2 separate regions of the Homo sapiens genome follow, and region 2 is linked to region 1. A link means that fine-mapping ties the variant in region 1 to the expression of a gene that starts in the linked region. Tissue or cell type: whole blood. Region 1 holds a variant in brackets; the other region holds the start of a gene. All regions are shown on one strand. Distances are from middle to middle.

Evidence for each region. PIP is the estimated chance that this variant, and not a neighbour inherited with it, causes the effect.
Region 2: ZNF385C starts here. The variant in region 1 is fine-mapped to the expression of ZNF385C in whole blood (TOPMed, PIP above 0.99).

What each region holds. Positions count from the first base shown.
Region 1 is chr17:42,062,337-42,065,088 of GRCh38, forward strand. It overlaps ZNF385C (zinc finger protein 385C), which reads right to left. Exons shown (of 9, transcript NM_001392013.1): 2 at 471-722. The coding sequence starts at 720. Among named protein-coding and RNA genes, the nearest start is that of C17orf113, 13 kb to the left of the region's middle. RefSeq lists an enhancer at 1-300 and silencers at 1,395-1,689, 1,684-1,783. The variant G/A (reference allele first, on the strand shown) is at 1,117.
Region 2 is chr17:42,097,469-42,100,077 of GRCh38, forward strand. It overlaps ZNF385C (zinc finger protein 385C), which reads right to left and starts at 1,005. Exons shown (of 9, transcript NM_001392013.1): 1 at 942-1,005.

The DNA of each region.
Region 1 (2,752 bases):
GGAGTCCAAAGGAAGAGGGGCCTCCCCCTTGTCCCTGGGTTGGAGTGCTGTGTACCTTGCTGACCTTGGCCTTCAGAGACCACAGACCTGAGCTGGAGCCTGGGACCCCCACCCCGCAGATGAGGCCCTTGTCTGAAAGCCTGTGGCTACCAGGAGGCTCCAGGCTGGAGAAGTGCTGCTTAGGAGTCCTGATCCCAAAAGATCCCACAGGGAGAGTTCCCTAGAAACAAAGACCCAAGAGGCGGCCTAAGGACCCACAGATTCCGAGAGGTCCTACAGAAGGGTTGTCCAGATGCAGAATAAAACTTGCTGGCATCGGGGAGGCTTCAGACCCTAAGACCCCATTGAGGGCACCCCAGACGCAAAGACCCCCATGGAGGGAGGCCACAGACCCAGAGCCCCTCAGAGGGGCCCAGACAGAGATACTCCCCAAACCAAATTTGTGGGAGCAGCGTCCCCTCTACACTGACCTGGCCCTGAGGGGCTCTTCCCCAAGCTGAGCTGCCGAAGCCGCCTCTGGTGGGCCCGCCCCCCACAGTGCACCTGGGCCTGGGCCGCCGAGTTCAGCTGGATGTTGCAGACATCACAGAGCGTGTACGATGGCCGCTTTCTTTCTCGCTTGGGCTTAGGTGGTTCTGGGGGCCGAGGGAGGCACTCAGCAGCTCCAGATATGGGGGTCTCCTTCTCAGCCGGTGGGGGTGGGCTCAGTGGCCGCTTCATATCTGAGTGGATAGAGAGGGAGATGAATGAACGCCAAATGGTTGCGAATTCTTAGAGAGAGCAGGAGGGGCTCAAGACCGGGAGACACGGGGCTCTGTATCCTCTATATCCCTCTGAAATGCCCCAGCCCGAGGATGGTGGAAGGGCGCATAATGGGGTCTATTTCAAGCAAAGCAGCATTAAAACTTGGGACTCTTGGCTGTGGCTCACGCCTGTAATCCCAGCACTTTGGGAGGCCGAGGCGGGCAGGTCACCTGAGGTCAGGAGTTTGACACCAGCCTGACCAACATGGTGAAACCCTGTCTCTACTAAAAATACATAATTTGCTGGGCATGGTGGCGCATGCCTGTAATCCCAGCTACTCAGGAGGCTGATGCAGGAGAATCACTTGAACCC[G/A]GGAGGCGGAGGTTGCAGTGAGCCAAGATCGGGTGTCATTGCACTCCAGCTTCCACAACAAGAGCAAAACTCCATTTCAGAAAGAAAAAACAAACAAAAAACAAAAACAAAAACAAAAAAACTTGGGACTTTCTGGAAGGGTGTCCGACATGTCTACACACGGGGAGGCCAAGACACCTGGGGACTCGGAGGGCCGCAGAACATATCTCAGAGAGGCGGACTGGGGTCTTGGAGGAAAGGTGGTCACTGAGGGAGAGGCAGTGGCAAGGCCAGCTGAGTCACATTTGAGGAAGCGAGAGTCCTGTTCTCAGCTCTACAGCAAGCGCTGGCAATCCTGTGACAGCCAGGCATGTGGCGCTTACTGGAGACGCAGCAGCCGCCAGCCAAAAACACAACCTTCCTGTGCCCTGCACCCAGCAGGGTGACATTCACAAATGGTGACAGTGTGTGAAGCCATCCCAACCCCTGCTCCACGTGGCTCCAGATGCCCCCTGCTGTCTTGGCAACCGAGGCCGAGGCAACAGTTGGTGGTTTCGGTAGAGACCTGAGCCTTGCTGCCTGGGTCGGCTGAAGACAGCGCCCCTGCCCCCGCCCTGTCCCCCAACGCGCGCACACGCACATACACACACACACACACACACACACACACACACACACACACACACACTTTCTGTCTCTTCGGGACCCTCAAGTGGCCCCTCCAGGCCCCCATCTCCCATAGACAGTCTTTCCTTTCCAAGTCACTTCTCTGAAACTTGCCCTGCCTGACTTGTCTGCCTCTAACCATTTCTATTCTGGGGCTGCTCAGTGAATTTTGCCTTCTCTCGGAAATCTGCGTGCATGCTTCCTGCCTCTGCTTCAGACAGGGGCTTCCTGAGAGCAAGATCTGTGTCCCTCCCTCAGGCTGGGGCAACCCCAAGGCTAGGGCCTGGGTGAGTCATACTGAGCCCATCTCTCCTGTTATGGACTGAAGTGTGTCCCCTCAAAATGCATATGTTGAAGTAATAACCCCCAGTACCTTAGAAAGTAACTCTATTTGGAGATGGGGTCTTCAAAGAGGTAATTAAGTTAATGAGGTCATACCGGTGGGCCCTAATTCATATGATGGGTGTCTTTATTTTTTTCAAGATGGAGTCTCGCTGTGTCACCCAGGCTGTAGTGCATTGGTGTGATCTCGGCTCACTGCAACCTCCACCTCCTGGGTTCAAGTGATTCTCCTGCCTCAACTCAGCCTCTCAAGTAGCTGGGACTACAGGTGTCCGCCACCACGCCCAGCTAATTTTTGTATTTTTAGTAGAGACAGTGTTTTGCCATGTTGTCCAGGCTGGTCTCGACCTCCTGACCTCAGGTGATCCTCCCACCTTGGCCTCCCACAGTGCTGGGATTACAGCCATGAGCCACTGCACCCAGTGGGAGACAGAGTCTTACTCTATCACCCAGGTTGGAGTGCAGTGGCACAATCTCAGCTCACTGCAACCTCTGCCTCCCGGATTCAAGCAATTCTCCTGCCTCAGCCTCCTGAGTAGCTGGGATTACAAGCATCTGCCACCATGCCCAGCTGATTTTTGTATTTTTTTTTAGTAGAGATGGGGTAGTGCCATGTTGGCCAGGCTGGTCTCGGACTCCTGGCCTCAAG
Region 2 (2,609 bases), 35 kb after region 1:
TGTCCAAAGGCTTGCGATGATCTCAGGAAGGTCCCTGGGGTCCCAGCTGGACCCAGACAGCAATGTCCTGACTTCCCTTTGTTCTATAATCCAGGGTCCTCTGCTCTACTTCAACCCAGCACCAAGACCCAAAGGCTGCCTCTCCTTAGTGGCTCAGAGCTCTGAGCATCACATTCAAGCTGTCAGCCCAGGTCCTCCTCCTCCAGGAAGGCTTCCTCGAGGTCCTGGGAGGCAGGACCCCTTTCCTACAGCCCAAATCCCAACACTGAGGGTGCAAATGCTCCCCTGTCTGCAATAAGGCCACATCTGCGATCACCTTCCCCAGCCGGCTCTGTGACACAGACACAGAAAAGATCTACTGAGTTCCCAGACTTTCCGGGTTCCCTAGGCCATCGGGGTAATCCCCTGCTCACCCCCTTGTACCCAGATGTAAATAAATGATGCAGGTGCCCTGGGGCTCATTAGAAAATCCCAGGCCCCAGCTCAGCTATGCGGCGGCTTTTACCTCATTAGCCCACGGAACAGAAGCCCAGTTTGGGTCAAGCCATCACCCCCTAGGGTGGGGAAGAGGCTGCCCTTGGATGAGGCATGGCGCACTCTCAGTCAACGAGGTTCCTTACTCCGGACCCCCGTCCTCACCATCCCCAACCTGCCCCACTCCAGAAAGCTGCGTGTCTAATGCCCGGCTCTTTCTTTTCCATCCTTTGGAGCCCGCCTGGCATCAGGGATAACCAGCCAGGACCCTCTAACTGCCCCAGAGTTCAGTCCCGCCCAGCAGATGCCCAACGTCGGCGCTCAGAGCCGAGATAGGGATATCCTCACTGTCCCTTGGGGTCCCCCAATTTTGAGGCGAGAGGACCGGACAGGTGGAAGAGGCTGCCTCGTTCTCCCGCGCTGCCCTCGAGGTCCTCGGCGTGGACTAGCCCGCGTCGCCGTCTTACCTGCGGGGCAGAGACGGAGCCCGCCGCGGCCACCTGCTCTCGCCTGGCTGGGAACGCTGCGTGTGGGGCTGGCTGGGAGGGGCGGGGCCCGGCGGGGCAGGGGCGGGGCTGGGAGGGGGAGCCGGGCCGGCCCCTCCCTCGAGGCCCCGCCGGTGGGGTGCGCGGGCTCATTCAGGTGGGAAGTCCCGGGAGAGCATCTGAGCCACAGGGAGGGCCCGGAGCTCGAGTTCTGAAGGCTGGGAAGTTAGGACTCCAGGGGGTGCGGGGGGTGGGTGGGAATTCCCCGCTTCAGACAGCCTCGCCCAGATGCCCTGGAGAGGGTGACTTCATATAAAGACCCCTCACACGAAGAAGAAAGCTCAGAAACCTCTCCTGGCCTGAGTCCCCTTCCATCTGAGCTCTTCGGGCCTGGCAGGGTTGGGTGTGAGACGGGACACTCCTCTAAAGTAAGGGTGCCCTCTCCAGGGCTCAGCTGTGTAGGGGTTTAGGCCGCTGAGGGGGCCATTAGGCAACCAGACCATCTTTATCCTCAGCCCATCTCCCTCCCTGCCACACAGCCCCTCCTCCGCCCCCAGCGCCAGCCCAGGTCCCCCAGCTGTCACTGTTTAGCCCTGGAATGACAGGCGTCCTGACTCCGTGAGTCTAGCCACATTCAAGGCCTTTGAGCTTAGCACCCCTGAGCCCCTGCCCCCTCCCTCTGCCCCCAGTCGCTAATTTTATTGACCTGTAAAAGGCACGTTGCTGGCAGGCAGTATACTAACTGAAGGCAAAGTGGGGAGCGGATGGGCAACTCTCCCCCCGGGAAGGCAGCTGGAGATGGGACAGGAGGGAGGAGGAAGGAGACTCCTGGATCCAGGGCCAAGGACACTTTGAGAGGAGGAAGAGGGGGGCCTTGGGAAAGAGAAGTACACTGTCTATGGGAGATGGTAGCCAAAAAGACGGGAACGGGAATTTCAGCCCTCAATCAGACAAGAGGCCTACAGAAAAAAGAAAATGCTGGGAGAAGACAGGGTGCATTTCTCATCTACCTGGGGACAGAACCAAGAATGTAGCAGGAGGGAAGGAGGTTGGACGGCAGGAAGGACTGCCATCCTGCTCTCAAATCTCTGCCCTAGCCCCCTCCCTTCCTCTTGAAGGTGTCTCCTGCCTGCTGGGCCTTGTACTACAGAAATAGCCCTTTCCCTGATGAAGCAACCTAGATCTTGCCTTTCTTTTTCTTTCTTGTTAAAATGAGAACAGAAAATTTAGGCCTTTGTAATTTTCCCCACCCCCGTGCCTACCTGAGCCCACCCCTCAAACCCTGGATCTCAGCCTTTCCCCAGCCTAGGGGAGATGATCTGAGGGTTAAGGGAAGGTGGAGAGGGGAATATCGGGGTTGGAAGCTATTATGGGGTAGGGGGAGCAGGAAGCCCTCACACTCTTGATGGGCCTCAAGTTTAGACTGTTGATACCCTTTATGAATAAGGCTTAGGAGGGCTATTAAAGAGGAGTGTTTAAAACTTCTTTTATTTTTTTATTTTTGAGATGGAGTCTTACTGTGTTGTCCAGGCTGCAGTGCAGTGGCATGATCTCGGCTCACTGCAAACTCCGTCTCCCAGGTTCAAGTGAGTCTCCTGCCTCAGCCTCCTGAGTAGCTGGAATTACAGGGGCCTGCCACTATGTGAGGCT